Linked DNA regions of Homo sapiens. The protein of the gene in region 3 purifies or fractionates together with the protein of the main gene of each other region. This does not show direct contact. Each region holds a gene or a part of one and is shown on either strand. Other genes may lie near its edges. The genes, in order: USP48, ERCC6L and FCHO1.

Region 1 (3,650 bases), on a different chromosome or scaffold from region 3:
AAGAGTCCATCTCAAAAAAAAAAAAAAAAAGAAAAGAAATAAAAACAAAGTGCCTGGTGAAGCTAAACATTCGTTGGGAAACTTTCTTAAAATAAATGTTAAGAGGTACAAGTGCAGTTTTGTTACATGAATATATCGCACTGTGGTGAAGTCTAGGTTTTAATGTAACCATCACCCAAATGTTGTATATTGTACTCATGCACATTTTTTTAACAGGCATTTTACATTTACTTTTAGTATTCTAGCCAGTTCCAATCTTACTCTTTAGCTCACACCACACAGCCATAAAGCAAGAGCAGACTGCAAGAGCTCACCCAGACACCGTTCCTAACACCTGGATGGGTGCAACTGCAATTACCAACTCACTTGTTTATATGTTCCCATGGAAATGTATTACTATAAATATTTCAGGTCCCATGATAAACCACTAAAGCTACAACCTGGAACTGCACTGAAAAATAGTTAACATATGAGCAACTGTCTTAGAATAAAATGTACCATGAAAAAGTTGAAACAGACTTACACAGTTACATAGGCATATTCTCCACAGAACTGCTGTTGAACAATATTGCGCACATCTGGATTCTTTTGTTTAGACAAAGTATCTTCCAATAGAGACATAAAGAGCTTTGAAAATTCTTGAGCATCCTACAAGTTTAGGTTAATGAAAAGAAAAATCATATCTTGCTTTTCAACTTCTACTACAAATAGTAATACATTCAACATTCCAGAAACTACCTATACTTTCAACTTAGCATTTTCAAACAGGGGCTACAGCTATGTTCAATCAGTTTGTGCCCCCATATGAATTTCCATAAATGGAATCAAGTATAATGTGTAAACTATTGGACAGTAAATAAAGGTTTTCATTCAAAATAGAAAAAATTTAATTTTTAAAAAGCATTCTACTTCATCTCCCTTTATAAACATGCTTAGGATGTTTGGGTACCTCTGAATATTTAAAAAAAAAAAAAAATTCAGTTCTTACCTGCTGTTGTCCAGTGTCCAGGCCCAAGGCTTTAACAAATCCTGATGGATCAATGTATCGCCTATTACTGTTTTGCAACAAGGCAAACAAGTACTGGAGATGCTCACAAATTGTTTGAGGCTCATAATCTATTAAAACAAAAATATAGATTTGGGGTTTTTTAAGGTGCTACTTTTCTTTCCAAAAAATGGTACTTCCTCTTCACATGAGAACATAAACATCTCTACATCCAAACTAGATTAATACTTTATTATCATTTTAAAACTTTAAAAGAAATAGGCTGAGCACGGTGGCTCATGCCTGTAACCCCAGCACTTTGGGAGGCCAAAGCAGGCAGATCACTTGAGATCAGAAGCTTGAGACAAGCCTGGCCAATATGGAGAAACCCCGTCTCCACTAAAAAAAATACAAATATTAGCCGGGTGTGGTGGTGCACACATGTAATCCCAGCTACTTGGGAGGCTGAGACACGAGCATCTATTGAGCGCGGGAGGAAGAGGCTGCAGTGAGGTGAGATCGCCAACAAAGTGAGACTCTCAAAAACAAAAAACAAGGCTGGGCACGGTGGCTCACACTCGTAATCCCCGCACTTTGGGAGGCAGAGGCGGGCGAATAATCTGAGGTCAGGAGTTCAAGACCAGCCTGGCCAACATGGTAAAACCCTGTCTCTACTAAAAATACAAAAAGTAGCTGGGTGTGGTGGCGAGCACCTGTAATCCCTGCTACTTGGGAGGCTGGGGTTCAAGGATAGCTTGAACCCAGGAGGTGGAGGTTGTGGTGAGCAGAGATCATGCCACTGCACTCCAGCCTGGATGACAGAGCGAGACTCTTTAAAAAAAAAAAAAAAAAAAAAAAAACTTTAAAAGACAGGGCTGGCGCAGTGGCTCAAGGCTGGAAGCAGTGGTTCACGCCTGTAATCCCAGCACTTTGGGAGGCCATGGCTGGCGGATCACAAGGTCGGGAGTTCCAGACCAGCCTGGCCAACATGGCGAAACCCCGTCTCTATTAAAAATACAAAAATTAGTGGGGCATGGTAGTACACGCCTGTAATCCCAGCTACTCGGGAGGCTGAGGCAGGAGAATCACTTGAACCCGACAGGCGGAGGTTGTAGTTAGCCAAGATTGTGCCACTGCACTCCAGCCTGGGCAACAGAGTGAGACTCCATCTGGGAGGAAAAAAAAAAAGAAATAGAATTAGCAACCATGTTTTGTGGAAGTCATGAGGCAGCCAGGACTGTCCATATACACTCCCCAAAGGCAAGAGCCTACCTGTATTAAAGCAACAACAGCAATCATGACTACAGTGTCTAGTCATGATTTTTTAAAGTCCAGTTAATGTGGACTTGGGATCTCAAGCACAGCAATTCACACTTAAGTGAAGAATACAAAACCGTAGAATTTTAGAGTTGAAAGTTTTAATGAGCTAGTGCAGGGAATGGAAGCAGAAAGCATGGATATTGAGAGCCCAGAAGACAGAAGTCTTATCTTCTTTAAGTTATTAACTTATTGCTTCTCAGCTCCAAATCTACCCTTCTTTGCCTGCTCAGTGATGAGAGATGGGCTCTGCAAATACTTCTCCTTTGCCAGTTATCAAGAAGGTAAGGCTTCTCAGTGAAGGGCACTGCAGGGTTTGGTTGTGCCTCTGTCACCAGCCTGCTGCAGATCAGCTTCCTCCAGGGCTCCAGGTTCCTGCCCCTAACAGTAGTCAGCAGCTTACCCAGCACCTCTTCTGATAGCTTCACAGTACAGTGCCTCCAGTGAGGCATTTCCTCTCGAATGACCACCCTGTGAATGGCCTCCCGGACACTCTCTCAGGTGACTCTGTAGGGGGTTCCAGGGCCCAGCACCTTCTCATGGACAGTTTCTAGTAGGGATTCCCAGGGAGGCATCTCAGCACCTTTTCAGCCACCCAGTGCATCCCAGCAGTGTCCAAAGAGGTCTGGATCTCAAGCCTGGGCCATGGGGGTGACAGACTATCCGTTGGATGTTCTCTTTCAGCCCCAGGGATACAGGTTGTTCCCTGTATCTGCTGTCCTTGTATTCTTTAAAATCCTCTTTAATCTTTAACTCTTATTAATCAATTCCTCATTTCTCTAATTAATTCTGTTATTAATTCTCAACTTTCCCTTTTCAAATTATTCTGTAGCTTCTGTCTTCTAACTGGACTATATTTATCTCCTTACTACCAACTGTGGCTTTCAGCAAGTCAATATATCATCTTCAAAATAAAGATAAAATATTACTCCTTGGCCTGCAAAAGCATTGCAGGCCAGTAAAAGCTATTCAAGGCCAGGTGCTGTGGCTCATGCCTGTAATCCCAGCACTCTGGGAGACCAAGGAAGGTGGATCGATTGAACCCAGGAGTTTGAGACCAGCCTGGGCAACATGGTAAAATGCTGTCTCCAAAAAAAACACAAAAATTAGCAAGAGGTGGTGGTGCATGCCTGTAGTTCCAACTACTCGGGGGGGCTCTGGCAGGAGGATTGCTTGAGCCTGGGAGGTTGAGGCTACAGTGAGCTGTGCTCGCACCAGCCTGGGCGAAAAAGTGAGATCTTGTCTCAAAAAACAAACAAACAATAAAAAAAAACCTTTTCTGTTCAAATTATTGTGTAGCTTCTGTCTTCTAATCAGACTCTGAATATTTGTATCCTTACTACCAATT
Region 2 (3,650 bases), on a different chromosome or scaffold from region 3:
GCATGTTTCTCTTTAAGGATTATTTTAAAGGACATCTAATCACCTCCCACAAGGTGTCTCCCCAAACACGTGAGGATTACAGTCTGGATTACAATTCAAGATGAGATTGAGGATTACAATCTGGATTACAATTCAAGATGAGATTATGGGTGGGGTCACAGCCAAACCATATCAGTGGCACACACCTGTAGTCAGTCCCAGCTATTCAGGAGGCTGAGGCAAGAAGTTCGCTTCAGCATGGGAGGTCTAGGCTGCAGTGAGCCATGATCGCACCACTGCACTACAGCCTGGGTGACAGAGCAAGACCCGTTTCAAAAATAAAAAAAAAAAGAAATATTATATACAAACAACTCCTGGAGGAAGGTGATACAACAATTAAACTTGGGCTACAAAGTCCTGTTACCTGGAAAGCTACACTTTCGCTGGCAAAACTGCCCAGTTGCTAACCCCCTGGGTCATAACCCCACCTAAAGGTCTCTCTATAAGAAGCCCTGCCCAAGTGGCCATATAAAATCATCTCTGTGGCTGGGCATGGTGGCTCATGCCTGTAATCCCAGCACTTTGGGAGGCTGAGGCGGTTGAATCACCTGAAGTCAGGAGTTCAGGACCAGCCTGGCCAACATGGTGAAACCCCGTCTCTACTAAAAATACAAAAAAATTAGCCGGGCATGGTGGTGGGTGCCTGTAATCCCAGCTACTCGGGAGGCTGAGGCATGAGAATCACGTGAAAGGCGGGGGTTGCAGTGAGCCAAGATCGCACCACTACACTCCAACCGTGCACCACAGCGAGACCCCATCTCAAAAAAAATAATAATAATAATAATAAAATCATCTCTGCCCCAAAGCTATTTCCTCAGATGCAAACATTTTCCTTGACCATAGCCAATTAACCTCTCAACATCTAATCCACCTCCCTTTGGAACTGGCTGATACCTTGAGAAACCTTTCTTCTCCACAGAGGGTCTGCCAGTTCAGATGCTGAAAAGTTTTTCTATCTGGAGAAACCCATAAGCCATACTATTAGACCTATGCCCCAAAGAGCTAAGCTAAGTTAAACACACAGTGTTTACAAATGAGCAGCTGAAAAGGCACACAAGCTTAAGTTGCAGAAGACACACACTTGATTTTCCTTGCTATGGAGGGCCCTTTAGAACATTCCCTACAAAGTTATTTTAGAATGTGAAGAGACAGCTGGGAGCGGTGGCTTGAGCCTCTAATCCCAGTACTTTGGGAGGCCAAGGCGGGCAGATTGCTTGAGCCCAGGAGTTTGAGACTAGCCTGGGCAACATAGTGAAGCCCTGGTCTCTACAAAAAATAGAAAAAAAATTAGCCGGGTTTGGTGGCATGCGCCTAGACCCAGCTACTGGGAGGCTAAGGTGGGAGGGATGGCTTGAGCCTGGGAGGCAGGGGTTGCATTGAGCTATGATCGTGTCACCACTGCACTCCAGCCTGGGCTACAGAGCCAGACCCTGTCTCAAAAAAAAAAGAATGTGAAGAGACAGAGAACTGAATGCAAAGACCCTAACTCAATAAAACTTTGTTTTCTTCACATGCAAAACAATCAGAAATGCTCTTTGTTTTGTAATCTGGCCACCAGCCACTAGGCCCATATAGGGGTGGAGGAGCCTAGACCTGCTAATCTCGGCGCATGTGAGTGGGGTTATTGCTGTCCTCTCAACAAGAACCCAGTTTTGAGAGACAGGACTTGCTGGATTTCCTAGGCTGACTAAGAATTCCTAAGCCTAGCTGGGGAAGGTGACTACACCTACCTTTAAATACAGGGCTTATAACTCAGCTCACACCCAACCAATCAGGTAGTAAAGAGGGCTCACTGAAATACAAATTAGGCTAAAAGCAGGAGGTAAAGAAATAGTCAAATCATATATCGCCCGAGAGCACAGGGGGAGGGAAAATGATCGGGATATAAATCCAGGCATTCGAGCCGGGAGGGGCAACCTCGTCTGGGTCCCTCCCATTGTATGGGAGCTCTGTTTTCACTCTATTAAATCTTGCAACTGCACACTCTTCTGGTCTGTGTTTGTTACGGCTCGAGCTGAGCTTTCGCTCACCGTCCACCACTGCTGTTTGCCACCGTTGCAGACCCATCGCTGACTTCCACCCCTCCAGATATGGCAGGGTGTCCGCTGCGTTTCTGATATAGCAAGGCGCCCATTGCCGCTCCCAATCGGGCTAAAGGCTCGCCATTGTTCCTGCATGGCTAAGTGCCCGGGTTCGTCCTAATCCAGCTGAACACTAGTTGCTGGGTTCCACGGTTCTCTTCCATGACCCACGGCTTCTAATAGAGCTATAACACTCACCATGTGGCCCAAGGTTCCATTCCTTGGAATCCGTGAGGCCAAGAACCCCAGGTCAGAGAACAAAAGGCTTGCTGCCATCTTGGGAGCGGCCCACCACTATCTTGGGAGCTCTGAGAACAAAGACCTGTCCGTTAACAGTTTCCCTATACTGATCCAGCTCCTGGAGTATCTGCTCCCTGACATGTCTCTATGTCCAGTCCCCTTGTCAAGATGCATGTAGATGCATTAGACACAACAGATGTCTTTTGATTCTCCATCAAAATCAATAAAACATAAAACATTTGGATAACATAAAAATTGCAGGTGACCTGAATGCCAGTATTGAAAACAGGTCCATTTAAAGCCCAAGTCATGGCAGAGTAGGCTAGGAGGATTCCTTCCTTTTGGCTTCACTTTCAGGGATGGTCATTTTAATTAAGGTGGGGATCATTTTAAAATCACATATAAACACAAACAATATTATTAAATAGTGATTTCTGACATAAATTAGGGAAAAATGTGGTTCACATTTCAGTCAAACAATATTTAATAATTAGCTTTTCCCTGCTTAGCGCCATTTATAAGACAGGCATTTAAGAGTCAAAAAAACAAACAATGTTGCTTTACTCTTAATAGCCAAAAACTGGAAACAACCCCAGCACTTTGGGAGGCCGAGGCGGTTGGATCACCTGAAGTCAGGAGTTTGAGACCAGCCTGGCCAACATGGTGAAACCCATCTCTACTAAAAATACAAAAATTAGCCAGGCATGGTGGCAGGCACCTGTAATCCCATCTACTCTGGAGGCAAAGGCAGGAGAATCATGTGAACCAGGGAGGCGGAAGTTGCAGTGAGCCGAGATCATGCCACAGCACTCCAGCCTGGATGACAGAGTGAGACTCCATCTCAAAAAAAAAAAAAAAAACAAAACAAAAGTTTAGGCCAGGCACGGTGGCTCACACCTGTAATCCTAGCACTTTGGGAGGCCGAGGTGGGCAGATCACTTGAGGTCAGGAGTTCGAGATTAGCCCTGCCATCATGGTGGAACACCATCTCTACTAAAAATACAAAAATTAGCCAGGTGTGGTGACGGGTTCCTGTAATCCTAGCTACTTAGGAGGCTGAGGCAGGAAAATCGCTTGAACTCAGGAGATGGAGGTTGCAGTGAGCCAAGATCAAGCCACTGCACTCCAGCCTGGATGAAAAAGCAAGACTCTGACTCAAAACAAACAAACAAACAAAAAAACCCACCAATCTGTGATATATTCATACAAAGGACTCAATAATAGAAAAGAACAAACTACTACATGTATGAATTTATACATGTATGAATCTCAAAAACATGCTGAGGAAAA
Region 3 (3,443 bases):
AGCTGAGGCTCAAGTCCCGTGCTTAAAGTCACACAGCCAGTGGCCGCCAAGCAGGCTCCTCACTCAGGCTTCCTATCTCCACTTCCTGGGTTCCAAGAACTTTGTCCTGCTCATAGCTCTCTCTCTGCTACATGGTATACAGTAGATACTCAATTAATATTTGTAGGTTGACTAATTGCTTCCTCATTGAACTAACAACCTTCCATCACTTTGCTTGGGATGCCCATTCCTATCTTGCAAACTCCTACTCATACCTCAAAACCTCATTTATAATGCCCCCTCCTTAGAAAGTCTTCCTGACTGCTTGGGAAGACTCCTGACACCCCTTTCTGGGCTTCTGTAGTCCTCCTCCCTCCCTATAGCCCACCTCTGAGCCCATGGGGCTGGGGTATCTGTGTTGTTCTTTCTCTCCCAGAATGGCCCTGTACCGGTTGAGCGCAGTGCAGGGAGGGAGGTACATTAGGTCTCTCGTATCCATCCACCTTCTCTTCCTCCCCTCTCTGGCAACGCAAAGGATACTTCCTGGAGCAGGAAAAGGTTTCCTTTTTTATTTTATTAGAAAATAAAGTGTTTATTCAAAGAACATTAAAAGGCCGGGACCTGTGTGGGGTTGGCATGAGGGGGAGGAGCGAATCTCGGGCTCAGCCAGGCTGGGCATGGGGCTCCTCTCCGTGGAGTATGGGCCTCAGGGAGGCTGGGGTGGGAGGCCCCAGGGTCCGGCAGGAGGGCAGGGGGTGGTCAGCCAGCACCAGGGCGCAGTGTAGAGCTGGGGCAGCAGCATTTGCGGGTTCAGCAGCTCACCAGGTACATCCCTGTGGGGGTGCAGCTGTGAGGGGGAGGGGTGGGGAGGAGGGGTACGGGAGGGGTTCCCCGGCTCTGACCCTGGGATGCTTCAATCATCCTTGTCCTCTTCAAAACACCCCTGTAACTCATAGTCCCTGTTGCCACTGGGCCCCAGGAGCCCCTTGTTGGGGGCAGGAGAACAGGGTGGGGCTGGAGGAGGGGGTGGCAGGGGGGACTTCGGGCTCCCTGGCTGGGGTCCTTCCAAGGACGTCCTCCAAGGGCCAGCCCCAGATACACAGGGCCCTGCCTCCTTGCCCACCTGTGCCCCCCATCTGGGGTCTCCTGGCCCCAACACCCACCTATCTTTCCCAAGGATCCCCACACCCCAATCCCTCCCCACACCCCGGGGCTTGCCCCTGTAAGATCTCGGCTCCTGAGGTCACCCAGCAGCAGGGTTGGGGAGTACCTGTGGCAAACCTCCTCTTCACCAGCGACATGCGGTAACCGCTGCCCACCAGTTCCAAGTCCACGCCCGACAGAGTGGTCCCCTCGCTGGTGAACTGTGCAGCCACGGGGCTGGGTGTGCTGGGCCCTGAGAGCGGCTCCCAGCTGGCAGAGAGGCGGCCAGAACCTGGGGAGACCTGCAGTCAGCTGCGCCCTGGCACCAGCCCCCGTCCCAGCTGTGAACCAGGCTCATCTTTGGCCCACACCTGAAGCCCTCTGTTCTGTGGCCTTTATGTGCCCCATCAGACCTCCCTTTGATCCCCTGCATCTGTCTCTCCTGGCATCACTGGGCTTTGTATGGCTAGCAAGGGAGTCCTGCCTCAGGGCCTTTGCACCTGCTGTGTCTGGCCATCTGGCCCTGGGACGCCCTCTCCTTCAGCTTTTTTTTTTTTTTTTTAGAGACAGGGTCTGGCTCTGTTGCCCAGGCTGGAGTATAGTGGTGCAATCATAGGTCACTGCAGCCTCTAACTCCTGGGCTCAAGTGATCCTCCCACCTGGGCCTCCCAAAGCACTGGGATTACAGACCTATGCCACTGTCCTTGGCCCTCCTCCAGCTTTTTTTTTTTTTTTTTTTTTTTTTTTTTTGAGACAGAGTCTCGCTCTGTCACCCTGGCTGGAGTGCAGTGGCACGATCTCGGCTCACTACAACCTTCACCTACTGGGTTCAAGCGATTCTCCTGCCTCAGCCTCCCAAGTAGCTGGGATCACAGGTGCGTGCCACCACACGCGGCTAATTTTTATATTTTTAGTAGAGACAGGGTTTCACCATGCTGGCCAGGTTGGTCTTGAACTCCTGACCTCAAGTGATCTACCCACCTCGGCCTCCCAAAGTGCTGGGATTACAGGCGTGAGCCACCACACCTGGCCTTTTTTGTTTGTTTGTTTGTTTTTGAGTCAGAGTCTGGCTCTATTGCCCAGGCTAGAGTGCAGTGGTACGATCACGGGTCACTGCAGCCTCCAACTGCTGGACTCAAGTGATCCTGCATTCTGGGCCTCCCAAAGCACTGGGATTACAGACCTATGCCACTCAGCCCGGCCCTCCTCCAGCTTTTAAAGACTTCCTCAATGCCCATACTTGCCCGCCCTCAGTATGTCCCCAATTCTTCCCCAACATAAATAAGTGCCTCCCACCTGACCCCAGTCCCTCCCACCCAGCCCTCATACACAACCACAGCTCACCGCCTGCCTCGGACACATCTGGAAGCCTCCAAGTGAGCCGCTTCTCCTCCAGGTTCCTGGCAGAGAAAGAATCTTAATCAGGGCTTCCCCAGAGAGGATGCTGAGAGCCCAGGGTCCTGCCTCAGCTGCCTCCTGGCTGTGTGACCCCAACAAACCTTCTCCCCCACTTCACCTCAATTTCCTCATCTGTGAAATGAGGGTGAGATATGGAACAGCCGTGGAGCCACACAGCCTTGCAACACTTCTGTGTGTGTGTGTGTGTGTGTGTTTGTTTTGTGTTTTTTTGTGTGTTTTTTTGAGATGGTGTCTCCCTCTGTCGCCCCGGCTGGTGTGCATTGGTGCGATCTCTGCTCACTGCAGCCTATGCCTCCTGGGTTCAAGCGATTCTCCTCCCTCAGCCTCCTGAGTAGCTGGGATTACAGGCGCCCGCCACCACGCCTGGCTAATTTTTGTAATTTAGTAGAGACGGGGTTTCACCATATTGGCCAGGCTGGTCTCAAACTGCTGACCTCAGGTGATCCACCTGCCTTGGCCTTCCAAAGTGTTGGGATTACAGGCATAAGCCACCATGCCCGGCTTCCTTGCAGCACTTTTAGATGACGCATTCTGTCCTATAAGTCTGGCTTCTTCACAACAGACTTTTTTTTTTTTAAATTTTTGTTTTTTAAGAGACAGTTGTCACCCAGGGTAACTCCTTGAAGCCTCAACTCCTGGGCTCAAGTGATCCTTCTGTCTCAGCCTCCCGAGTAGCTGGGACTACAAGAGCACACTACCACTACTATTTTTTTTTTTTTTTGAGACGGAGTCTCACTCTGTTGCCCAGGCTGGAGTGCAGTGGCATGATCTCAGCTCACTGCAACCTCCACCTCCCGGGTTCACGCCATTCTCCCACCTCAGCCTCCCAAGTAGCTGGGACTACAGGCACCCGCCACCATGCCCGGATTTTTTTTTTGTATTTTTAGTAGAGACGGGGTTTC

The links.
Region 1: the proteins of FCHO1 (region 3) and USP48 purify together in Homo sapiens (affinity purification with mass spectrometry; one large-scale study listed by BioGRID and IntAct). This does not show direct contact.
Region 2: the proteins of FCHO1 (region 3) and ERCC6L purify together in Homo sapiens (affinity purification with mass spectrometry; one large-scale study listed by BioGRID and IntAct). This does not show direct contact.

The regions. Positions count from the first base shown.
Region 1 is NC_000001.11:21,752,004-21,755,653, forward strand, and holds part of USP48 (ubiquitin carboxyl-terminal hydrolase 48), read right to left. Parts: intron 1,117-3,650; coding exon 989-1,116; intron 649-988; coding exon 524-648; intron 1-523.
Region 2 is NC_000023.11:72,211,470-72,215,119, forward strand, and holds part of ERCC6L (DNA excision repair protein ERCC-6-like), read right to left. Parts: intron 1-3,650. UniProt on the Homo sapiens protein: DNA helicase that acts as a tension sensor that associates with catenated DNA which is stretched under tension until it is resolved during anaphase. Functions as ATP-dependent DNA translocase. Can promote Holliday junction branch migration (in vitro).
Region 3 is NC_000019.10:17,785,653-17,789,095, reverse strand, and holds the end of FCHO1 (F-BAR domain only protein 1), read right to left. Parts: intron 2,523-3,443; coding exon 2,467-2,522; intron 1,415-2,466; coding exon 1,250-1,414; intron 827-1,249; coding exon of another isoform or gene 813-826; coding exon 790-812; coding exon of another isoform or gene 686-789; 3' UTR 535-685; downstream 1-534. UniProt on the Homo sapiens protein: Functions in an early step of clathrin-mediated endocytosis. Has both a membrane binding/bending activity and the ability to recruit proteins essential to the formation of functional clathrin-coated pits.